6 separate regions of the Homo sapiens genome follow, and all the other regions are linked to region 2. Evidence: fine-mapped expression QTL. A gene starts in region 2. Each other region holds a variant in brackets. All regions are shown on one strand. Distances are between the middles of the regions. Region 1 overlaps FKBP15 (FKBP prolyl isomerase family member 15). Region 2 holds the start of FKBP15 (FKBP prolyl isomerase family member 15). Region 3 overlaps SLC31A2 (solute carrier family 31 member 2). Region 4 holds the start of RNF183 (ring finger protein 183). Region 5 overlaps FKBP15 (FKBP prolyl isomerase family member 15). Region 6 overlaps FKBP15 (FKBP prolyl isomerase family member 15).

Region 1 (4,089 bases), 33 kb after region 2:
CTCCAACTAGTATGTCTTTTGACTTTGTATGTGGTATTCTTGTGTTTGTTTTCTATTTAGAAGTTCAATAATTTTATTGAATTCAAGTCTGTCAATTTTCTCCCCTTGTTATTTGCTTTTGACATTATGCTTAGAAAGCCTCTCCACTTTCAGATTATAAATATCACATGTATTTTTAAAGATATTGATCAATATTTTATAATTAGATCTAAATTTTTAATCCATTTGGAATTTGGTGTATGCTATAAAGTAACTTAATTTTAACTTAATTCTTCTCTAGTGGTTAGTTCTTTATTGAATATAATCGTCCTTTCTCAATTGAAGTGAAATATATAACTTAGACTGATTTTTAGTATTCTTTTACTTTGATAGAAAACAAGGAAAGGGCGATGGTCTTGAAAAAATTTTTTCTGGAATATACTTTATATTTTACATTTTTGTTTTATTTCTTGGAAAAGCTCTATGTAGATTTAACATCTTAAAGGAAGATAGGATTTCTGAGGCCTATTGTTATAGGATTATTTTTTTCTGGTCTGGAAATGCAGTGTAAATAAGAATATTTTTATTAAAAATTTTATGTGCTACTTATTCATTTTAGAATAATTTAAAATTATAGAAAAGAAACATATTGAACAAAAAGGGCATTCATCTTTATATATTGCTTTGTAACCTGATTTTTAAACCTAATGTTGTATCATAAACATTTACATTAACATAAATGATTTAAGTAAATAAAGTGGTTTAAAGGAAACCCAGTGTTCCATTATATCATTTTATTATAATTCCTTTCACTCTGTTATTAGACATTTAGGTTGGTTAAGAGCTGTAGAAATCTAAAACTGGGATGTTTTTCTAGAAGAGAATATAAGGGGACAAGGTGAAGTTCTAAAGTAAAAGAATGTCTGAAACTTTGGTCTTTGAACTATAGCATAGCAGATTACAGTCACTGTATATTGTGCCTCAAGATTTTCTGTTTCTTATATGAAGCAGGAGGTAGAATAACTTTGTTTAGAGTTATAGCTTTGATTTTATGAAAAGCTTTGGTTTTATGAAAATAAAGAATGTTGGAAAAACATCCTAAAACTATATTATCCAAAAACAGCATGTTAATCAGGTGCAGTGAATCCTACGTTATCTGATTTTCATTGAGTACCTTGAGGACTATGGGGATGATTTGTAAGAAGCGAAGAGGCTGGATTATTTCTTGCAAAAGACCACTTTTTTTGTGGGAATAGATTAGATTTGTCTTAAGGCAGTTACTGGCTTGGAAAATGATACATTCTGAAGAGTGGTTAGTTTAGCTGCTTCAGACAATAGAACATCAACCTCTGAGAATATTTGTGGAAATTAACTATATTTACTTATTCAATATGATTATAGGGAGAAGGACTCTTACTTTATTGCATAGCAGAGTGCTTTTTCTCCACAACCCACACCCTCAACTCTTGGCCTTCCGCTTACCTTTCCTTCCTCTTCTTTGCCTAGAAATCCTGTGTTGGAAGCAGGTTTAGGGCAGACAGTCAGCCTCAGTCTTCAATGAGGGACCCCGTACAGAGTAACCCAAACGCTTGTTCCTGTTTCAGGATGTGAACACTCTGCAAGGAGGTGGGCAGCCTGTGGTGACTCCGTCCGTCCAGCCCTCTCTTCATCCGGCCCATCCAGCGTTACCACAGATGACCTCACAGGGTAAGGAACCTCTCTGAGGCTCTGTGGCCTTGAACTGGGTCAGCATGAAAATTATCGTCACTGTTCCTTAAACTGTTAGGCTGCATTGTTTCAGTACTGAGGACTAAAGTGTAAATGTAAGAGTGTGACGCTTGTCAGTTTGTCCCTGGGTAAGGCATTTTCATACCCAGAGATGGACCTGGCTGCTGGTTGTGACTTCTGCTGTGTTGCACTGTCAGTTTTGGAAATCTGCACTCAGCTATTGAGACATCTCCCTGGGTGTGTTCTGCACTTCCTGT[C/T]GGGTGGGATCCTAGGGCTGAGTCAGAAGCACATGAGAGCACCCAGTTTCCTTCCACTGGCTCATTCCTGAGATTGCAGTAGAGCTGAGTGTAGGGAGACTAGGCAAGGAAAATAGTTGAGTCTGAAGCATGATAGTATGTAAGGTGCTAGTCTAGACTCACACCAAGAAGCAAGGGTGGATAACAGTGAAAATGTCTCCCTTTATCTTAGCACCTCAGCCATCTGTTACTGGGCTCCAGGCACCTTCTGCTGCCTTAATGCAAGTGTCATCTCTCGATTCCCACTCAGCTGTATCTGGAAATGCCCAATCCTTTCAGGTAACATTTTATAACCGTATTAATTATATCCTATAATTTGCTGTGGTTCTAGTCAGTCTCTTTTCTTCTTCCTGTACATTTCATACAGTAGCAGTTCCCCAAAGTCAGAGTTTGTAATTTTTTTCCCTTCCTTGGTTACCACTTTCTCATCTCTAAACCAGGCAAAGGATAACCTACGTTCCAGTGTCATAAAGATTAAATGCAAGAACAAGTAGAGCCCCTAGTACAACGTAGTAAAGATGCAATCAATGTTTGTTTCCTTTTCTTTTCACACATATCCAGTTGAAGCGTGTATATTCGCGTTCTTCTGTATTCTTTTCTACTAAAAGTTGGCAGGCTAACATTCTGCAGTATATTCAGCAGAATGGTATGGTTTAAAAGTGGAACCATGTGGAAAATGTAGCTTGACTCTGCTATCTAGTAAACTTTTCTTAAAGAAGGCCTTTTTCCTGTTATCACAGAAAACAATGGCAGCAGCCTGTTTGCCAGGGGTAGCAGACCCTTTCTTCTGCCTCAACACACTTGGTGGATAAGGCATACTGTCACTGGGAACAGCTGCTCACTCCTTGTGATGCTTAATGGAGGTGTGGGAATGATGGTGGATAGGCTATGCCTCATTAACATGGGGAGTCTCGAAACTGGAAAAAGTCCCACTGTTGCCCTCTTTCTCCCCATCCCTCCTCTCCTCCATGGAGAATTACTATGCTGTAGACTAAGAATTTTTTTTAAGTGGATGCGTAGTTATATCTATCCCTGGAAATGAGCTAGACTTCCTTATTTCAAGGAAGAATTACCATCCTCATTAAAATAAAAGCTGCTGTTTATTAAGCGCTTACTATCTGTCAGGCCTGTAACTTACTAGCTTTTCAGAACTTTACCTATCTCACTTCATTTAGTCCACAGAACAGCCCTATGAAGTGATATTATTATCTTCCTCTTACAGTTGAGGTGACCGAGACTCAAAGGAACATGAGAGCTCTTGGTCTCGTGGATTAGCTTCAGAATCTAGCAGGGGAGAGGCATCCTTGGAAATTGGCAGATTTGGTTTGGAATCTCAGTGAGCACTTCTTCTTTAAACTCAATGGAAGCTAAGCAGAGTTTATTAATCTAAAAACTTCTTAGACAATAGGCCTGATAATGGGGAATGAATCCCTGCTTAATTATCTCACCAGATGACTGGGTAGTGACCTAAGATACACTTTCTTCAGTTTCTGGGTAGGATTTTAGTGACTGGTTTCCCCTGGGATACATAGATAACTCTCCTGCTGCAGTCCTTACCAACTGCCAAACCCAGATCTCACCCATCTCTAGCTTCAGTAAGTTTGAGTCTCCTCCCAGCTCATCCACTTTATTCCACCAAAGAAAAATGTGAACAAAAAAGAAAGACATGAATGTTTTATCAACCAGTGGTAACTCGTCAGTTTCTCAGCCCTATGCAGGTATGCAAGCCTACGCTTATCCCCAGGCATCTGCCGTCACCTCCCAGCTGCAGCCCGTTCGGCCTTTGTACCCAGCACCGCTCTCTCAGCCTCCCCATTTCCAAGGTAGGGAGTAATTCCCTCAGTTTCTCATCTTCCGCTCTTGCTGTGCTTTCCCTCTTCTTGCTCCTCCTTCATTTTCACACCAACAGCTCTCTACTCATTGTTTCTTCTCTTTTTTAACAGCTTTGTTGAGATATAATATGTATTCCACACATTCATTCATTTTAAATGTGCAATTCAAAAGTGTTTTAGTAAATTTGCAGAGTTGTGCATTCATCACTACAATCCTATTTTAGAACATTTCCGTCATCCCCCAATGTTTCCTT
Region 2 (4,089 bases):
TTTTTTTTTTTTAAAGAAAAGGCTGGAAGGACATGTCATAAACACCTAGAAAGATTCTGCAGTGAGACTGCTTTGCAAGTGACTTTAAGTATTCATTCCATGTTAAAAATACCATAGATAATGTAAGCCAGGGGCTAGCAAGCTCTTTCTGTTAAACATTTAGATGTTTCAGTGCTGCAATCACAGTGACCGGTGTTGGGGAGAGGGATTAGAAAGTGCCATGGTACTTAATCCAGTTACTCCCCCAACACCTCCAAGAGGTAGCCAAGTTCACACACTAAACAGAGCTACTGCAACAGTTCTAGTGCTAGTCCTTAGATTCTAGTTCCAGTTCCGGTTCTAGTGCTTAGATTCCAGTTGCATCATTCCAACTGTGAGCCTTCGCTGCTTTAACATCTTTGCCAGGAGGTGCAAAGTTCTCTGGGAGGGAGCTACCAATCATTTCATTTCAATTTCATACTGACAGATTGAAACATTCACGTAAGGGACACCTGTAGTACCAACCTGACTGTGAGGGGAAGCCCAAGAACTCCAGTGAGTCTGTGGACGCTACGCTGGGACACTATCTCCTTAGCCACACCTTGTCTAAGCCAGGACTACCCCAGGATTGTTTCGAGAATGATACCAGGTTAACCAAAGAAATACTTATGTAAGATACAGATAGGGTGGAAACTGGAGGCAGAGGAGTCCGCCACAATTGATGTTGATTTAGGGCTGTCGCAGGAAGACCCAGGGAAACCCACGCCAAAGTTGGGGTGGGGATGTGTCTGCCTCCAAAGTATCCTCCTTTCCATCACCCACCGCCAGAATATCTTAGCTCTTCTGCACCTCATCCGCGTAGAATACAGGTGGACTCTAGAAAGGGGACTTTCCTCGAGGTGTATGCTACAGTCTTTCAATAGTCACTCTGTAAGGGCACACAGTGCTTAAGGGCTGATAAGGTTCTTGTTCACCCACTAGCTCACTATGTCCTGAATCAAAGGACGAGGAATCCAGTCTCAGTCTGCCCTTTACTCTTTGTGACCTCGGACTAGTCACCCGGGTGCTTAGTTCCTTCGTCTCCCTATCTGTAAATTCTGAGATTACGAGGAGGCCGGGATTGAAATCCATGGCCTCTGAGCTCTAAAATCTTCTGGACCAGCAGGCACATGGAAGAACTGGACAAATGGCCGGTTGCATACACGGGGAAACTGAGGCACCGAGCACCCCGGCCCAAGGTCACTCTGGCTATGCCACTGCAGGGGCCGGGCCGAAGCCCCAGTCTTTAACCCTCCAGTCCCGAGCTCTTTCTCCTTCCGCGGAGCTGAGGAAAGCGGCGAGGAAGGTCCTTGTCCCGCTGGGAAAAGGACGGTACCCATGCACAGGGGTGCGAAAGAGGGGCCGAGAGAAGCCTTACCTTTCCAGGTCAAGTCCAGCCACTAGCACCTCTCTCTCCGAATCTTAACCCGTCACCCCCTCACGACTCTTCGAACGGCCCCTCCACTTCTACCCGGCTCGACGTGTCCACCACCGCCACCGAGGCCGAGGATTTCCCGCCCCCTCCCGCCCCCTAGCATTACCGACCAATCCCTGCAAGGGGCTGTGAAGCTCCGCCCCGCTGCGGGCTGGAGAGGCCTGACGTCACTCGGCGCTCGTGCCCGCGCGAGCCTCTCATTTGCCTTTGCCCCACCTTCTCCAGAGCCCAGTCTACTTTCGGTCCAGAGACCGTGCTGGAGTTCGCCCTGCCGGAAAGCAGCACGCCGCCGCGGCATTTTACGACGTCGGCGGTGACAGGCCCTGGGACTCTGGGAATACCCAGCTTCCTCCCCGCAACCCGGTGAAAGCCAACGCAATGTTCGGTGCGGGGGACGAGGACGACACCGATTTCCTCTCGCCGAGCGGCGGGTGAGTGACTGAGAAGTATGCGCTGGAGGGCGTGGCTGAGAGATACCGGCGGATTGTTGGAGGGGGGTCGATCTCTTCTCAGGCCTTTTCCCAACTTCCGGGGGGAGACCCTTGCCACATTCCGGTGCTCTACACCTCTCAGAATCTGGGCAGAACTTGCAACTGTGCTGACCCTGCCGATCTGAGGTTCGGGACCCGGCATCTCTCTTGGCGGGAAGATAGCCCTGGGTTTGCCTTTTGCATTCTGGGTCACAATTTCTCCGGTGAAATGGGAATGATTGCTGATGAGACTTCCTGCCTCAGAATTTTTATAGGAGTCAGCTGGGGCTGATGTGAGACTTCTTTTCTCCATGGAGAAGGCGAAGACACTTTAGAACCAGGCCTTGGTGGGTCAGCTCTAGCATTCTTCAAGGCCCAGCTCGGATGTCACGTTTTGGATGCTTTTCCTTCTGCAACCTCAGGCAGAATGAATTGCTTTCTCTTCCTTATTCCTGCAGCTAGGTGTGTTTGCCTCTATTCTTATACCCCGCACCTATTAGATTATGAGTCCTCACCGGACAGGGACTGCTTATGGTGTTCATTTCTGTCTAGCATGCAGCATGGTACCTAGCACATAGTGAGTGCTCAGGAAGTGGCTGTTGAATGAATAATAGCTGCGAAATTGCACTTTGTAAAGCTTAAAGCTTAAAACCAACGTAACAGACTTCTGTCATTCTCCAGTTTCCCCAAGCATTATATTAATATATACCAGCCTGGAATAGAAATCTTTAAAGAGAGGAAGGGTTTTGTCTCTTTTAGTAGTCAGTTTAGCCTTTTCCATTGTGTTGTGCCAGTGGACAGCTTGACTTCCTCCAAACTTGTGAGCTACCAAGCTCTGATCATTGCAGAGCTTTTCTTTGAACATATGCTTAACAAATTTTGTGCGTGCTGAAGAATGTACTGGAAAAATGACAAATGCACCACATATGCCCCTTATTCTGCTAAATGCTAAGAGGTTACAAAAATGATTAAACTGCTGTGCCTGCCCTTAAGTTGCTTCCAGATCTGTTGGGCCATGTGGTTTCTATTGCAACCACAAATACTCAGTTCTGCCTTGTAGGGTGAGAGTAGTCATAGACAATACATAAACAAATGAGTTAATAGATGAATGACCATAAAATGACACTGGCCTTCTTTTGTCCTTAAGTAGGAATTTTTGATTTACACTGACTAGCTCTATATTACCTACCTTTTAGTCTTTTTCACTCTCACCACTCTGTTCCCTTCCTACCCCGTCTTTAGATGGCCTGCATTCACTTAGTTCCACTTTGAGTTCTTTCCGTTTCTCAGTTATTTTACAGTTAAGCTGTGCTTTTGTTCCTTTTTTCCCTATTCCACTTTAAATTCGCATTCTTCACTATGTGAAAGTATTTGGGAGAAGTCTGTAATGTTAGGGCTCCCAATTTTCATGCAACAATCAGTCCAAGCTGACTGAAAATTATGGGATAGGTAATGACAGCCATGTGCTCTTTTCCAGATTCCTGGCCAGAGATAAATTCTTGGTGGCTCAACTATTCTTTTTTCCTGAGCAGGCTTCTCAAGGATCTGAGACACTTGAATTCTAGGCATGTGACTGTGCTCCTAGACATAGACAACAGCTAATTTGATGGTAAAAGACATACTGAGGAAAGTTATAGTTTATTTTTGTTCCCCACAGTTATCAGGAAAACCAAATCAAATTTAACACTGAGAATACAGAAAGTTTCACCACAATTCTCTGATTTAGCTATTCCTTTTTTGGTTTTCTCTAAGGAAGTAGAACATATGACAGTGAATACTGCAGCTACTTTTCACTTCCTCTTTTATAGCCATATATTACTGTAAGTATACTTGCTTAAGTTCCAAGTCTCTTGATTTAAACACATGATTTGCTTGATTTCATGAAGGATATTCAAGCCTAATAGAAGTAGGAGTATCTGATAATCTGCCTTCTGAGTTTCTAGGCCTCTTAGAGTTTACTATTAATCTAGAAGTAGTAATCAGGAGCCTTGTTTTTGTTTGTTAGTTTGTTTTAGCCCATTCCTCACCGTTGTGGGAAGTAATAGTAATGAACTAATAGTACTTGGCTTCAGCTAATCCAGATAGGAATAAGGCACAGTTTCTGCCCCTAAGAAACTTTTATTTTAGTAGTAGAATAAAATCAATCCAGGAATAATAATCACAAAG
Region 3 (4,089 bases), 62 kb after region 2:
AAGGAAAGATAAATAGCACAAGAGTAATAGTTATCTCAGCAAAGTAGGATACAGGTGGTTTTTATGTTCTTGCCTAACTTTCTAAGGTTTCTTTTATATATATTACTTTTATAATAGGGGAAAAACCCAATAAATTATTTTACCAAAACTATCAAGTGCTTATTAGAGCTGCTGTGTAAAATTAACTGTTAATTACTACTTTTGTTTCACTAAGAGGGATAATAAGTGGTCCAGCTAAAGTATTTTACTGGACTCTGCGACATAATAAGAGATATATATCCTGTTTCTGCCCTGGTTTCCTGGCACACGACTTCTAGAACCCTTGGAAACGCTGTCAAGTGGTGTCTTTTTATATGCTAATGAGATGACTGATGGCTGAGGCTCCTGGATGGGGGCTGGTTGCCAGGGGAGCCAAACTTGTGCTTGGAGGTTGGCACTTTCAGCCCCACTCCCTACCTCTGGAAGGAGACAGGGACTGAAGGTTGAATTGATCACCAGTGGCCAATGAGGTCATCAATCATTCCTCCATATGAAGACTCCATAGAAACCCAAAAGAATGCAGTTTAGATAGAAGGAATAAGTTGTTGTATTCGACAGTACAGTAGGGAAATTTATAGTTAACCATAATTTATTGTATATTTCAAAATAGAATTGTAATGTTCCCAACACAAAGATAAATGTTTGAGGTGATAAACACCCCAGTCACCCTGATTGGATCATTACATATTGTATATAGGTATCAAAATATCACGTGTACCCCAAAACATGTACAACTATTATATATGAATAATTTTTTTTAAAAGGACAGGATTTGAAAAGCTTCCAGCTGCTGTGAACACATGGGGGTACCTGGAAGGTGGCAAGCCCAGGGAGGGCCTGGAGGCTCTGAACCCCCTCCTACATGCCTTGCCCCATGCATCTTTTCCACACAGCTATTCATTGTACTTTTTTTTTTTAGATGGAGTCTCGCTCTGTTGCCCAGGCTGGAGTGCAGTGGCGCAATCTTGGCTCACTGCAACCTCCACCTCCTGGATTCAAGCAATTATCTTGCCTCAGGATTCAAGCAATTATCTTGCCTCAGCCTCCCAAGTAGCTGGGATTACAGACACCCCCCACCACGCCTGGCTAATTTTTTTGTATTTTTAGTAGAGACGGGGTTTGACCATGTTGGTCAGGCTGGTCTTGAACTCCTAACCTCAGGTGATCCACTCGCCTCGGCCTCCCAAAGTGCTGGGATTACAGGCATGAGCCACCACACCTGGCCCATTTGTACTCTTTTTAAGTGTTTCCTTGAGTGTTGTGAACCATTCTATCAAATAATTGATCCCAACAAAGGCGTTATGGGAACCCTGACATATAGCCAGTTGGCCAGAAGTACGGGAGACAAGCTGGGACTTGCAATTGGTGCCTGAAGCAGGGGGCAGCCTTGTGGGACTGTACCCTTAACTTGTGGGATCTGCACTAACTCTGGTTAGTGTCAGATTTGAACTGAGTTGTAGGACACCCAGCTGGTATCAGAAAAGTTGTCACTGAGGGAAAGCCTACACATCTGGTCACAGAAGTGTGTGGAGCGTAGGAAAAGGAAAAAGTTGGGTTTTTTTTCCCACAGGCTCCCAGGAGGAAATCATCTGACAGATGCAGGTTTTTAAAACATAAAATTATAGGTAATTTCATGTACATGGTGAAACTTCAAACAGTGCAAAAAAGAATACAATGAAAATTCAGGCCGGGTGTGGTAGCTCATGCCTGTAATCCCAGCACTTTGGGAGGTCGAGGTGGGTGGATCACTTGAGGTCAGGAGTTTGAGACCAGCCTGGCCAACGTGGTGAAACCCTGTCTCTACTAAAAATACAGAAAAATTAGCTGGGCATTGTGGTGCCTGCCTGTAGTCCCAGCTACTCGGTAGGCTGAGGCAAGAGAATTGCTTGAACCTGGGAGGTGGAGATTGCAGTGAGCCAAGATCGCGCCACTGCATTCCAGCCTGGGCGACAGAGACTCCATTTCAAAAAAAGAGAAAGATCAGTTTTCTTCCCACCCCAATCTCTCTTCACCCCAATTCTCCTCCCCAGAGCAACCTCTGTTACTCAATGTATATATCAGCCTCTGTTTGTCCAAATGACAGCATCCTATCTACGCATACTGTTTTGCATTTGACTTTATCATCCAGTTTTACCTCAGTTCACACAGATTTACCTTTTCCCCAGTGGCTTCATCGTATCTGTGATAGATTACATTTTCCAAAGACAGCCACTCCAATGTATCCCACCCCACATCCCCTTCTTATGATGTCAACACTCCTGCCATCAAGTGGTGGGGTCCATGTTTGTTCCCTCTCCTTTAGCCTAGGAAGACCTTCGTGACTGCTTCAGCCAATAAAGGTAGAAGTAATTTTATCTGATTTCCAAGGCTAGGTCTTGAAAATCCCACGTACTTCTACCTTGTTCTCTTGCGACACTCGATCTTGGAATCTAGCCACTCTGCCACGAGGAAGCCCAGGCCATAGGAGATGCCACATGTAGGTGT[T/C]CAGCCAACAACTCCAGCTGAGGTCCTAGCTAACAACCAGTATCAGCCACTTGGCATGAGAGTGAGGAACTCTTCCAAATGACCCTACTTCCAGCCACTGTTTGACTATACTGCATGAGAGACCTTCAGTAAGGACCACTCACCTGGGTCCAGTCAACTCACAGAACCTTGAGAGAGAATGATAAAATGACTTGTTTTAAGCCACTGTTTATTCAGCAATAGATAACAAGAAATAGTAACCCATTGTAGGGCTGACCATAATTTATTTAATCTGCACCCGCAATAATGGGCATTTGGGCTGTTTCCAGTCTCTTTTTAAGATGCAGTTATTTAAGTTGAAAAATAACTTCTTCATGAATTAGTGACAAACTCTGCCTTTTCAAATCAAAGGAATATTCTTTCCTTTCAAATTGGTGTCTCATCTCCAGCAGCTGCTGTGGGCTTCTGAACTGGTGCAGAACAATGAGCCCTGGATAAGGGAGGTGCCAGGTGACACCCGGAGGCCTTGATCTAGTAGTGGCTCTGATGCGTACTTACTGTGTGACCCTGCACGAGTCTCTCTTCCTGTCTCTGGGCTTTAGTTTCTTGCCCTGTAACAGAGGGAAAAGCTGCCTCCCTGCCTCTCGGCCTTTGTGAGGATCAGTAAGATAATGGAGCCCTTTGCGATCTGAAGGGGAGTGGTTACAAATGGAATTATAACTGTGAAGTTCCTGCTCAGTGTTTATGCCAGAGGAATCAGCCTCACTTAAATGCCCACAGAGAATCAAGAGAACCCAGATTCTCCCTTGCCTAGTACTACAAGGCTTTCCAAGCTACAAGTCTGAGGTCCCCAATTCTTACCAGCAGGACTGTGGACACTCCAGAAATCAAACAGAAGCACCGCTGTATCTGAGAAGATGAAATGCATCTGAAAGAGAAAGGAATCTGCATCATAGGGGCACAGGGCAGTGGAAGTTACGGTCCTTAATGCTCTCCAGCACCTCCTCTGGGAGCCCAGAAAAATGGGGTCACTGGAAGTGCTGGAAGGGCCATCAGAAGTCATCAGGGCCAACTGAGGCCATAAAGAGCTGAGACTTGCCCAAGAGGGTCAGCAGCAGAGCTATAATTGAGCTGGCCATGCTCCATATGAGAATAGAGGTGTGGGAGTGTCCATCCTCACTGGACCAACTGGCTCGGGATGTGACAGTGTCCTCAGACTATGTGGGGATGTCCCCTCCATGCCTTCCAAGTGCAACTGCCTCTTCTTACCCCCCCGGGACCCTAGCCATTCTGCTGCAGCTCCAGAACAGGCTCCCGTGTGATGGAAGCCTGGAGTCCTCTTTGTCCTGTTCAGTCTAGACAGATCCCACAGTGTTTATCGTGGAGGGGCCCAGAGGCAGCTGTCTTCACTGTACTCCACATCTGCCTACTCATTCACTATACATTTGCTGAGCCCAGTTTGTGTGCCAAGCATTATGGAAGTAGGTTAATGTCTCTGACCTTGGTGAGTTCACAGCCTTACAGGAAAGACTGCAGGTAAAAGCAGTGACCATGCAGTGCCTGTCAGATGCCTTTTCAGAGGGTGCT
Region 4 (4,089 bases), 84 kb before region 2:
CCCTCCCTTCCTTCCTTCTTCTTTCCTTCCTTCCTTCTCCCTCTCTTTTCTTCTTTTCTTTCTTTTTTTCTTTTCTATCTTTCACAGGGTCTTTGCTCTGTTGCCCAGGCTAGAGTGCAGTGGTGCAATCTGGGCTCACTGCAGCCTTGACTTTCTGGGCTCAAGTGATCCTCCCACTTCAGCCTTCTGAGTATCTGAGACAACAGGCATGTGCCACCACGCCCAGCTAATTTTTTATTTTTTTATTTTTTGTAGCAATGGGGTCGCTAGTCTTGAACTCCTGGGCTCAAGCAATCCTCCAACCTCGGCCTCCCAAAGTGCTGGGATTATAGGCATGTGCCCAGCCAACATGCACCGTTTTTTTGTTTTGTTTTGTTTTGGTTTTGGTTTGTTTGTTTGTGTTTTTTTTGAGATGGATTCTCTCTCTGTTGCCTGGGCTGGAATGCAGTGGTGCAATCTCGGCTCACTGCAACCTCCGCCTCCCAGGTTCAAGCGATTCTCCTGCCTCCTTAGCCTCCCAAGTAGCTGGGATTACAGGCACCTGCCACCACGCCCAGCTAAGTTTTTTTTTTTTTTGTATTTTTTAGTAGAGACGGGGTTTCAACATATTGGCCAGGCTGGTCTCAAACTCCTGACCTTGTGATCCGCCTGCCTCGGCCTCCCAAAGTGCTGGGATTACAGGCGTAAGCCACCGTATCCGGCCAACATGCACCATTTTTAAGCTGCTTTCCCCCTCCATTTACAGTATACTGTGACCATTTTTAAAAGTCAATGAAAATCTTTCTATATCATTTTAAATGATTATGTAGTTTTTCACCTAATTGATGGGGTTTTGGAGTGTTTTCAATCATTTGTGATTAAAATAAAACTGCAATGAATATCCTCACTCAACCAAAATATATCTTTTTGATGCTTCTGGGGAATTACATGATTAGGTCAAAGTAGATGAACTTCTTTATGTTTTCTTATGTTGCCAAGCCAGAAAGCGTGACTTCCAAACTCTCAAATACAAACCAGGTTCTTTGGACTAAATCAGTGTCTCGAATCCCCAGTAACCTCAGTTAACCAGTAGTGACACCGAAAAGCAGGGAATTCCAGAGCTGAGAGGAACTTTGAGGCCATCGGTGATCATATACCTCGTCTCCAGCTCAGAAAGAGGAGAATTACTTAGACATTTTCTTTAGAGATCTAAAACTTCCCAAAGTCCACAGTTTTATTTTCACACAATTCTAGGCTAACTTAAAATCAGCATTTTTGCATTATTCTTTCATTCAATATTTATATATTTATAATGAGGGGGTTAGATCAATAGGGGATTGGTGAAGTGATTTATGGTACAGCCATTCAATGAAATCTGATACAACCATTAAAAAACCGAAGAAGGTCTTCTTTTTTTTTTTTTGCTCTGTCGCCCAGGCTGGAGTGCAGTGGTACAATCTCAGCTCACTGCAACCTCTGCCTCCCAGGTTCAAGCGATTCTCCTGCCTCAGCCTCCTGAGTAGCTGGGACTACAGGTGTGCACCATGACGCCGGCTAATTTTTGTATTTTTAGTAGAGACGGGGTTTCACCATGTTGGCCAGGCTGGTCTTGAACTCCTGACCTCAAGTGATCCACCCGCCTTGGCCTCCCAAAGTGCTGGGATTACAGGTGTGAGTCACAGCGCTGGGCCAAAAACCGAAGAAGGTCTTTATGTACTAATACAGAATGATATCTCAAATACATCATCAAATGAAAAAAGAAAAATGCAGAACAGTGTACATAATATGCACATTTGTGTAAAAAGGAGGTAAAGGAATACATAGATGTTTTGCCATGGACATGCTGTTTGTGTATGTATAAAACATCTTTGGAAAGATACACAACAAACTGATAGTATAATACTTTGATTTCCAGGGAAACTAGGTGGCTGCGAAGAGACAGTTTTCACTGTGAAATCAAACC[A/G]TTCACATGCTCAACCATGTAAATATATTACCTATTTAAAAATCAAATGTGGGCACGGTGGCTCAAGTGTAATCTTAGCACTTTTGGCAAGTGGATTGCTGGAGCCCAGGAGTTTGAGACCAGCCTAGGCAACCTGGAGAAACCCCATCTCTACAAGAAATACAAAAATTAGCCAGCCACGGTGGCATGCACCTGTAGTCCTAGGTACTCAGGAGGCGGAGGTGGGAAGACTGCTTGACCCCAGGAGGTTGAGGCTGCAGTGAGCTGTGATCGTGCCACCGCACCCCAGCCTGGATGATAGAGTGAGACTCTGTCTCAAAATAAATCAATACATAAAAATTAATGTAAAAAAACACAAAATGCGGGGACTAGGGCATTTGATTACATCACCAAGCAGATACATTTATTTACTTGTTTATTTCTCAAGTATGGCTGAAAATGTCAGTAAAGAAATAAGGGGCCAGGCGCGGTGGCTCATGCCTGTAATCTCAGCACTTTGGGAGGTCGAGGCAGGTGGATCACCTGAGGTCAGGAGTTTGAGACCAGCCTGGCCAACAAGGCGAAATCCTGTCTCTACTAAGAATGTAAAAATTAGCCGGGCATGGTAGCGCGCACCTGTAGTCCCAGTTACTCGGGAGGCCGTGGCAGGAGAATTGCTGGAACCAGGGAGGTGGGGGTTACAGTGAGCCAGTATCGCCCCACTGCACTCTAGCCTGGGCGACAGAGCAAAACTACGTCTTAAAAAAAAAAAAAAAAAAGAAAGAAAAAAAAAAAGAAAGAAAGAGAGAGAGAAAGAAAAGAGGACCATAGGTACAAAAAGAATTTGAGCGGGAACAAAAGATGGGCCACGTGAACAGACCGGTTATAACAATAATAGTTCTGGTTAACATTTAGCGAGTTACTGTCTGCCAGGCCCTGTGTTATTACGCGATCTCGACACGTATTACCTCATTTAATCTACAGATCAAGTAGGTAGGTTATTATGGCCATTTTCAGGTGAGGAAACTGAGGCTGGCAGAAGTTAATTAATTTGCTCAAGTCTCCATCGGTAGTTAAACGGAGTTTGGATTCTCAGTGAGGGCTGAACTCTGACCTAGAAGTGTGCCTTGCTTGAGAACCCTGGCTCTTCAGGCAGACGCTCAACCGTCTCCCGACTATTTTTCTGCTGTATTAGTGGCCGCTTTTGTCAGTATTTTGCAAGAGCTATCTGTATTTTGGTTACAGGGACTCAGCATAGGGAAGGATCCATCTCGGCAGAAGCCAGGAGTCGAGGCAGGTCAGCGCACAGAGGACAGTGGAATCCGAGGGGATGGCAGGAGATCAATCGGACCCAGAACAGAGGCCTGCAAGGATGAGCGCACTTGATCCCCTCAGAGAAAAAGCCAGAGTGACTCACAGGAGAAAGACAAAGCAACCAAAGCTTCCAGGGTGTACAGGAGGTCCAAAGTCACCAGAAGGAAGAAGAAAACCTGAAACAGCGAGAGCTGGCCAAACGCTGCTAAGACCTATGCAAATAAGACCCACCCACGCTACCTGGAAATCGGGCCTGGGAAGTCAGAAAACAAAGCACATGCGTGCAGGGCTGCACGAACGGAGGCGGAGGAGGCGGCTCCGAGGGAGCAGGTAAGGAGACAGAGAGGGTCGCGGAGGGACGGGTCACAGGGCTCCAGAGTCCAGAGAGGCAGCAGCCGTGCAGCGCGCGACAGGTGAACTCTGGCCTGGGAGGGCAGGCTACTGGGTTCATCTTTCAAACTCAGCCACTCTTTAGCTGGGAAGACTTCGGCAAGTTGCCTCACCCTTCTGAGCCTTGGCTTCCCCATCTAGAAAATGGGTCTAAAAATAATCATGCTAACTCTGTATTGAGCGCCTTCCGTATTCTACTGGGCACCGTATAGACTATTCCTTCCCCAGAGCAACCTTGTAGGAGTGGGATGATTAGCCTTTTTTACAGAGGAAAATGAAGTTCAGAGAGGTTAAGCCATTTGTCCAAGACAAATTGTTCCAAATCTGGTTCCAAAGCCGGCACCTTTCTACTCCCCATTCAGCCTCTCTCACAGGGTGGTTTTAGAGTATCAAATGGCTTTCTGCAAACAACAACAAAAAATCCCAAAAGGCTAGTAACCTATCTAGATGGATCACCACACTTA
Region 5 (4,089 bases), 49 kb after region 2:
TCCTTACCCTTTAGGATGACATTTCTCATAGCTGATACTCTCACTTTGGAGAAAGGTAGAAAAAGTAATCCAGATATGTGCAGGAGAGCCAGGAATCAAATGGAGAATCTTCTTTCTTTTTTTAAAGCTTAGTTAATATTTAATTACATAAGTAAAAATGAAAAATAGTTTCCTTACAAAAAAAATTCCAAACATGGTAAGGCCAAAACCATCAACCATTGGACACCATCCTTCAGGCACATTATCATCCTTGAAAAGAAGGGATTGATTTAGGTCATCAGGAAGGGAACCAGGGATAGTGGCAGGACACAGCTGGATCTCTAGTCTGTGCAACAGCAACCTTTCTCATTATAAGCTTAAAATTTATATGCATACATTTGTTTAATTAGAGTGCATTGGTGCCCTCAATTTGACCACCTCTGGGAATTTTGGTGAAAAAAAGTTTCTGAACCTATAAAGTTTAGGGTTCAGACCCTGAAAAGCAGTGATCACATGGCCCTGCCCTCCAGGGACCTATCTAGATAGGCACACTTTTGTCTGCTTGGAGTACCTTTTGGAGTCCTGACAACCAATGACATCTTAAGAAGTGCATTTATTTTAAAAGTAATGAGTCTTTTAAACAGTTTCCCAGTTAAATCTGGGCTGTTAGCTTATTCTTTTGCTTTTTGAAAGATGGGTTTCCCTAGGTGCAATGGAATCTCACTCCCCCACCCCCAAGGATGATATGGTCATTACTTTCTCTTGGCAGCTGTCTTTAGTACAGGCTGAGCTACAGACCCAGTGGGAAGCAAAATGTGAACATTTGTTGGCCTCCGCCAAGGATGAGCACCTGCAGCAGTACCAGGAGGTGTGCGCACAGAGAGATGCCTACCAGCAGAAGCTGGTACAACTTCAGGAAAAGGTACATATTTTTCTTGAGTCAGACAGTTTAGGCAGCCCAGTTAATTTGAGGCAAGCAGGCTGTTTGAGTCCTGTCGATCCTTCTAAGCCTGAAAGTTATTAATATCTAGAAGACAAAACCACACTTGTTTAGCTTGTCAGTTATCTTTCACATACTTATGTGGGGTGATAGGTCAGTGACCTGGAAAAAGAGAAAACAGCACTAGTGTTCCGGAACATGTTTCCCATTATTATTGGATCCTTCATTTATTAAGCAAATATTTATTGAGAGTCAGTTGTATTCCATCCAGTGTGTTAAAGGAAGTGCATACAAGGAACCCTTCCCTCATGTATCTCACAGTCAAGAAAGGGAGACAAAGAAACAAAGATAGGTGTTAAGTGCTATGGGGCCCAGAAGAGGAAGTACCCAGGAGAGCTGGGAAGGTTTCCCAAAGGTGGTGACATTTGAGCAGAGCCAAGAAGGACAAATAGCTTTGGTAAGGCAGCAAAGGAGGCAGAACATCCTGGGCAAAGGCACTGAGATAGGATGGAGGCTGGGGTGTGGTGGGATCATCAGGCCTGAAAAAGAGAGATGGGACATGGCTTAGGGTCATGGTGTGAAAGTCCATATTCGAGGTCAGTTTCTTTCCTTAAAGTGTCCAGTTGAAAACTTTTGGCTCAGAGATCTTGGAGGCAATCTTGCAGATGAATGACAAATGGGTTGCTGTTAATGCTGAATGTTTATGTCTAAATGACTAGTTATTACCTACCCTCCTGCTCTTTTTTCATTATATTTTTTACCTGATTGGGAACAAGGCAAGCAACCTTCTTGGGAAAGAGAAAGTGAAGTTTTGCGTTGAAGTCGAATGATGAGGAGATAGAACTCTCTGAGGCAGAGGGTC[G/T]TGGGTGGGGGCTGAGGGAGTGGACACCAGCAGACCTAGGCGAGGTTAAGACTTGATGTTTAGAGATTCTGGAGAGGATGTGGAGAAATAGGAACGCTTTTACACTGTTGGTGGGAGTGTAAATTAGTTCAACCATTGTGGAAGACAGTGTGGCGATTCCTTAAGGATCTAGAACTAGAATTACCATTTGACCCAGCAATCCCATTACTGGTTATATACCTAAAGGATTATAAATCATGCTACTATAAAGACACATGCACATGTATGTTTATTGTGGCACTATTCACAATAGCAAAGACTTGGAACCAACCCAAATGTCCATCAGTGATAGACTGGATTAAGAAAATGTGGCACATATACACCATGGAATACTATGCAGCCATAAAAAAGGATGAGTTCATGTCCTTTGCAGGGACATGGTTGAAGCTGGAAACCATCACTCCCAGCAAACTATCACAAGGACAGAAAACCAAACACTGCATGTTCTCACTCATAGGTGGGAATTGATCAGTGAGAACACTTGGACACAGGGCGGGGAACATCACACACCGGGGCCTGTCGGGGGTTGGGGGACGGGGGGAGGGATAGCATTAGGAGAAATACCTAATGTAAATGATGAGTTGATGGGTGCAGCACACCAACATGGCACATGTATACCTATGCATCAAACCTGCACATTGTGCACATGTGCCCTAGAACTTAAAGTATAATAATAATAAAAAAAAAGAATTTGAAATAAAATTGTCTTTTTATTATATGCAAAAAAAAAAAAAAGAGACTTGATGTTTGGGTGGTTCTCCTCCCCTTGGGTTTTCTGACCTTCACCTGGTTCCTGAGGCCACAGCCACAGTCTGTTTGTTTTGCAGTGTTTAGCCCTCCAGGCCCAAATCACAGCTCTCACCAAGCAAAATGAACAGCACATCAAGGAACTAGAGAAGAACAAGTCCCAGATGTCTGGGGTTGAAGCTGCTGCATCTGACCCCTCAGAGAAGGTGAGCTGGTATTTCAAATGAGAAGCAAGCCATTTATATCAAGCATTCAGAAAGAACATGGCCAGTATGTTGTGTTAATAGCTCTTTTTCTAACTTTAGTGATGTTTTACTTGTCTGATGACTTTAAAATGAACCAGATTTGGTGTTTGTTTGTTTGAGACGGAGTCTCACTTTGTCACCAGGCTAGAGTGCAGTGATGTGATCTTGGCTCACTGCAACCTCCGCCTCCCAGGTTCAAGCGATTCTCCTGCCGCAGCCGCCTGAGTAGCTGGGACTACAGGCACGCGCCACCACACCCAGCTAATTTTTGTATTTTTAGTAGAGACAGGGTTTCACCATGTTGGCCAGGATGGTCTCGGTCTCTTGACCTTGTGATCCGCCTGCCTCAGCCTCCCAAAGTGCTGGGATTACAGGCATGAGCCACCATGCCCGGCCCAGATTTGGTTCTTGAGTTTAAGGAGCTTACAGCCTAGTGGGAAAACAAACAAATACATACTTACATATTAAGTGGCAAACCCAAAAGAACCCTATCTTTCTGAGGTTTTGACAGGTATAGGAAGGGCCTCTAACCACAGAAGAAGAATGGGGCTTGGGGAGTGTGCCCAGCATCCACTGGCCTCTGACCCTTAGAGCCTATGGCAGCTCCTAGTGGTGCTCACAGTGGGAGGGGGACATCAAGAAATGGTCTTTAAGCAGTCTTGGGCACACAGACCACAGCTTGCCTGCCCTTGATAGGTAACTCTCATGACTAGCCCTTCTGTCAAAGTGCTGCTCATTATTTAATATCATCCTCTCCACAGTGACAGCCTTCAGTGTCTCTGCTTATGACCAGCAGTATCCCAGTGTAGAGATCTAAGATGGCTTCATTTTGGCCTTCCATACACCTCTCTGGAATTTAATGCATCCTTTAGTGACTTGATTTTGACAGCATGTGTTTTGATGTTCACACAGGTCAAGAAGATCATGAACCAGGTGTTCCAGTCCTTACGGAGAGAGTTTGAGCTGGAGGAATCTTACAATGGCAGGACCATTCTGGGAACCATCATGAATACGATCAAGGTACAGCCAGCCAGCTGTCATTTGTTTCATCGTATTGGGCATTTTGTTGCTTAAGTACCTTCTAAGGGATCATGAATAAAAAATTGTTCAAAGCTGGCACAGTGGCTTATGCTTGTAATCCCAGCATTTTGGGAGGCCAAGGTGGGAGGACTGCTTGAGGCCAGGAGCTTGAGACCAGCTTGGGCAACATAATGAGACTTTGTCTCTACTAAAATTAAAAATTTAAAAATTAGCCGGGTATGGTGGCACGTGCCTGT
Region 6 (4,089 bases), 21 kb after region 2:
AACCCCATCTGTACAAGAAAAGAAAGAAAGAGAGAGAAAGAGATAGAGAGAGCAAGAAAGAGAGTTAAGTTACTACATACTCATTGTAGAAAATTTAGAAAAGCATTAAAAAAAATCACTCATAGTCTTACTACTCAAAGTAACCACTATTAACATATTTCCTTTTTTCTATGCATAATATACATAAGTAGATACAGTCCTTTAATAGTTCTTTATCATGCTTATTTTATTTAAAAATGTATAATTCATCTTTTCCTACCTCATGAAAAACTATTTGGAAACATTTTTGAAGGCTGCATAATATGCATGTTGTCAGTTCAAGCTACCGTAACAAATTACCATAGTCTGGTTAAGCAACAGAAATTTATTTCTCACGGTTCTCGAGGCTGAAAGTCTGAGATCAGGGTGCCAGCACGGTCGGGTTTTAGTGAGACCCTCTTCTGGGTTGCAGACTATCTTCTTCTTGTATCCTCACATGGTAGAAAGAGGGTGAGAGAGTTCTCTGTATCTCTTTAATAAGGTCCCTAATCCCATTCATGAGGGCTCCACCCTCCTGGCTTACTTACTTCCCAAAGGCCCCACCTCCTAATACTGTCACACTGGGAATTAGGATTTCAGTGTAAGTATTCGGAGGGGACACAAACATTCAGCCCATAACATTTGTTTCTTAATTGATGTAATCATTACCTTATGTTGTGCATTTAGATTGTTTTCTGTCTCTGCAGTAAATGATACCGTGGTGAGCATTTTTTATAGAAGTCTGTCCTTTTTTCCCCCCTACATATTTCCATAAGCTTTATTTCAGTAAGTGAGTGATTGGGTCAAAAGGTCCAGATATTTTTAGGTTCTTAATACACTTTGGCACACTGCTTTTCAGAGAGATTGTACTATTTCACATTTATATCAATTTTCTCATCGTACCTTTGCCAGCATTTAGAATGATCCTTTTTTTCTTTTGGTCTTCTTCACTTGGTTAAAAAAAAAAAAATGATGCCTCATTGTTTTTATTTGATTACAATAATGAAACTCTTTTTTTTTTTTTTTTTGAGACAGAGTCCTGCTCTGTCGCCAGGCTGGAGTGCAGTGGTGCCATCTCGGCTCACTGCAACCTCCGCCTCCCGGGTTCAAGCGATTCTTCTGCCCCAGCCTCCCAAGTAGCTGGGACTACAGGCGCACACCACCACTCCCAGCTAATTTTTGTATTTTTAGTAGAGACAGGGTTTCACCATGTTGGCCAGGATGGTCTCGATCTCTTGACCTTGTGATCCGCCCACCTCGGCCTCCCAAAGTGCTGAGATTACAGGTGTGAGCCACCGTACCCAGCCTCTGAAACTTTTTAAAAGAAAATGAGCCGCAAGTTCCTAATGGATACTATGTTAAAACACTGATAAAATTGGGTCTCAAATCCACATTTTTCTAAACTCATAAAGATCTTTCATACTATATTGCTTTTGAGGGCTTAATAATATTAAAACACAAGCCCAAGAATAATTATTCATAAATAGAATAGAATAATTATTCACAAAGATGCCCCTGACTCCTTTGTCTAAGATTTGTGCTAAGATAATATGGCCAAATCTGTAGATAGTATTGATGTGGATTCTGGGAATGCAACATGATTTTTTAAATGCCCTTCTTTCTACTGCAGTCTTTAGAAGTGCCTTCTGACGTTTTTTCAAAGCTCCCCTTTCTTTCCTAGGTTCCCAAACACTGAAACAGTAAATCAGTATCATCATCAATAGCTAATGTTTATTAAGTACTTACTATTATTTGCCAGGTACCTTGTCAAGTACTCTACTTATATTAGCTCATTTAATTTTCATAACCATCCTATGAGATTTGTGAAGCATCATCTCCATCTTGGGTACATAGAGATTATTTGGCTAGGGTCACAAAGTTAATAAGTGGCAGTGCCTGGATCTGTACCCAGACATTCTGACTGCAAAGCCATACTCCTAGGCACTTTGATCCCTGGCAAGATAACTGGCTTCCGTTTGGTTTACTTCTAAACATGTAATCTGTTTTGTTAGTGGATGAAGCTATTTGAGAAAGAGCAGTAGCAATAAAGGAATGAGTACTTATTGAGCTTAAACTACATTTATGCTGCTTTGATTTTGTCTTGCAGGTGTGCATTGCTAAGTGCAACAGTACCTCTTCCCTGGATGCAGTGCTCTCCCAGGACCTCATTGTGGCAGACGGCCCTGCTGTAGAAGTTGGAGATTCTTTGGAAGTGGCCTATACCGGCTGGCTCTTTCAGAATCATGTGCTGGGCCAGGTAAGAAAATGCACCCTGCAAGTTCTTTTGTAAACTTATATAGCATGAGGGCTATTCCCAGGGAAGATACTATTACTGTGAACGGCTGCTGTTGTCAAATAGAAATATTTTAGGATCCCCACTTTAGACACTGCAATTGCTTTGGGGGCATATTATGAAATGTGAATGTGTAAAAGATCCTCAGTGCCACCCTGTCACTTCTACTTAGGGAAAGTGGGAACCAATTTCCCCAGTACTATT[A/G]TTTTTGCTAGTTGTTCATGTGTATGTCTTGTCCTCCTATACCAGTTTTACACTTGAATATATTCTTATGGGATTAAGTCTTAAAACTTCTTTTTAGACCCTCCTTATAGTTTTTCTTATAGTAGATACTGTAAATACATTGAACTTACTGTGTTTTAATATTATTGAGCCCTTAAAAGCAATATATTATATGAGAGAAAGACCTTTAGACTATGAGTTTAGAAAAATCTGAATTAGAGATCCAATTATATACTAATTTGACTTTGATCAAGTCATTTATACTCTTATTTTTTTCCATTTGTGAATGGAGGCTAATGATCTTGCTCTGCTTACTCGGCAGGGTTAGTGTCAGCATCAAAATGAGATAATTTATTTGAAAGTGTATTGTGGATGAAAAATGCTTAAATACACAGTTGTAGTAATGTGTTTTTTTTCTAAACCTGGAAAATTACTGTTTCAGAGATATTCATTATAATACCCTTTAGCTATGATGTGGGCTAATATTTCAGGTCCTTTAGAAACTATCTTCCCAGTATATTTGACATTCCCTATTCCAGAAGTAGTGTGCTGGTATGTAGTTAGTTGAATATCATAATGGTTATTATTATTTTTGAAATTGGCTGGCCTAATTTCCTTCGATCAAATTGCAGGTTTTCGACTCCACTGCTAACAAAGATAAGTTGCTTCGCTTGAAGTTAGGATCAGGAAAAGTCATCAAGGTAAAGGCTTAACTGTGTTTTTTTATGGTTTTATCAGTTGCAGTGGGTTTAACTTAGATTAAATTTTGTGGAATTCCTTTTTTTATTTTATTTTTATTTTTTGAGACGGAGTTTCGCTCTTGTTGTTCAAGCTGGAGTGCAATGGCACGATCTTGGCTCATTGCAACCTCCACCTCCCAGGTTCAAGCGATTCTCCTGCCTCAGCCTCCCTAGTAGCTGGGATTACAGGCATGCGCCACCACACCCAGCTAATTTTGTATTTTTAGTGGAGATGGAGTTTCTCCATGTTGGTCAGGCTGGTCTCAAACTCCCGACATCAGGTGATCCACCCGCCTCAGCCTCCCAAAGTGCCGGGATTACAGGCATGAACCACCATGTCCGGCCTGTGGAATTTCTAATCAGGTTATCTTTTTGACATCTGGAAATGCCTGGATGAAGAATACGAGGGGAAAATGTGTTACATTGCATTTGGGAGATTTTTATCTATGAGACACTACATTGAAGATGGTTACAATTGTTTTCTGTAGTCCTGACCTTTTCTTTTCCATTCTATGACTCTGAGAATATTATTTCATCCTTCCTATAGCCTAACAGGGGAAAAAGTGAGACAGTTTCTTCTCGAAACTTATCATAAAGGGTTGAATCTCATCTGTCTGGATTGCTTTGAATCAGCACTTTCCAATCACTGTAGAAGGCAACTGTGACAGCAGCAGGAGGAGCACTGGGGTTGAAATCCGAGAACTTGGGTTCAAGTTGTGAATTTTTTCTTTATTAACTGTGCAGGTGTTTTATAAAATAAAGAATGTTTTACACATGTGGTATATTATGGTGTCAGGACATAGTAGTGATGGTGCA

Evidence for each region. PIP is the estimated chance that this variant, and not a neighbour inherited with it, causes the effect.
Region 1: its variant is fine-mapped to the expression of FKBP15 in whole blood (TOPMed, PIP above 0.99).
Region 3: its variant is fine-mapped to the expression of FKBP15 in whole blood (INTERVAL, PIP above 0.99).
Region 4: its variant is fine-mapped to the expression of FKBP15 in whole blood (INTERVAL, PIP 0.91).
Region 5: its variant is fine-mapped to the expression of FKBP15 in whole blood (GTEx, PIP above 0.99).
Region 6: its variant is fine-mapped to the expression of FKBP15 in whole blood (INTERVAL, PIP 0.94).

Annotation. Positions count from the first base shown.
Region 1 is chr9:113,185,986-113,190,074 of GRCh38, reverse strand. FKBP15 (FKBP prolyl isomerase family member 15) reads left to right here. Exons shown (of 28, transcript NM_015258.2): 13 at 1,584-1,686; 14 at 2,176-2,282; 15 at 3,712-3,826. Among named protein-coding and RNA genes, the nearest start is that of FKBP15, 33 kb to the left of the region's middle. RefSeq lists an enhancer at 1,341-2,540. The variant C/T (reference allele first, on the strand shown) is at 1,965.
Region 2 is chr9:113,218,986-113,223,074 of GRCh38, reverse strand. FKBP15 (FKBP prolyl isomerase family member 15) reads left to right here and starts at 1,798. Exons shown (of 28, transcript NM_015258.2): 1 at 1,798-1,884. The coding sequence starts at 1,832. It overlaps SLC31A1 (solute carrier family 31 member 1), which reads right to left and starts at 1,531. Exons shown (of 5, transcript NM_001859.4): 1 at 1,397-1,531. RefSeq lists enhancers at 620-809, 1,650-1,759, 1,870-1,999.
Region 3 is chr9:113,157,068-113,161,156 of GRCh38, reverse strand. It overlaps SLC31A2 (solute carrier family 31 member 2), which reads right to left. Exons shown (of 4, transcript NM_001860.3): 2 at 3,364-3,430. It overlaps FKBP15 (FKBP prolyl isomerase family member 15), which reads left to right. Exons shown (of 28, transcript NM_015258.2): 28 at 1-151. Among named protein-coding and RNA genes, the nearest start is that of SLC31A2, 8.1 kb to the right of the region's middle. RefSeq lists a silencer at 3,033-3,234. The variant T/C (reference allele first, on the strand shown) is at 2,524.
Region 4 is chr9:113,302,532-113,306,620 of GRCh38, reverse strand. It overlaps RNF183 (ring finger protein 183), which reads left to right and starts at 3,245. Exons shown (of 5, transcript NM_001371237.1): 1 at 3,245-3,565. RefSeq lists an enhancer at 805-974. The variant A/G (reference allele first, on the strand shown) is at 1,943.
Region 5 is chr9:113,170,265-113,174,353 of GRCh38, reverse strand. FKBP15 (FKBP prolyl isomerase family member 15) reads left to right here. Exons shown (of 28, transcript NM_015258.2): 23 at 749-901; 24 at 2,648-2,773; 25 at 3,725-3,832. Among named protein-coding and RNA genes, the nearest start is that of SLC31A2, 21 kb to the right of the region's middle. The variant G/T (reference allele first, on the strand shown) is at 1,782.
Region 6 is chr9:113,198,000-113,202,088 of GRCh38, reverse strand. FKBP15 (FKBP prolyl isomerase family member 15) reads left to right here. Exons shown (of 28, transcript NM_015258.2): 7 at 2,126-2,275; 8 at 3,166-3,234. Among named protein-coding and RNA genes, the nearest start is that of FKBP15, 21 kb to the left of the region's middle. The variant A/G (reference allele first, on the strand shown) is at 2,516.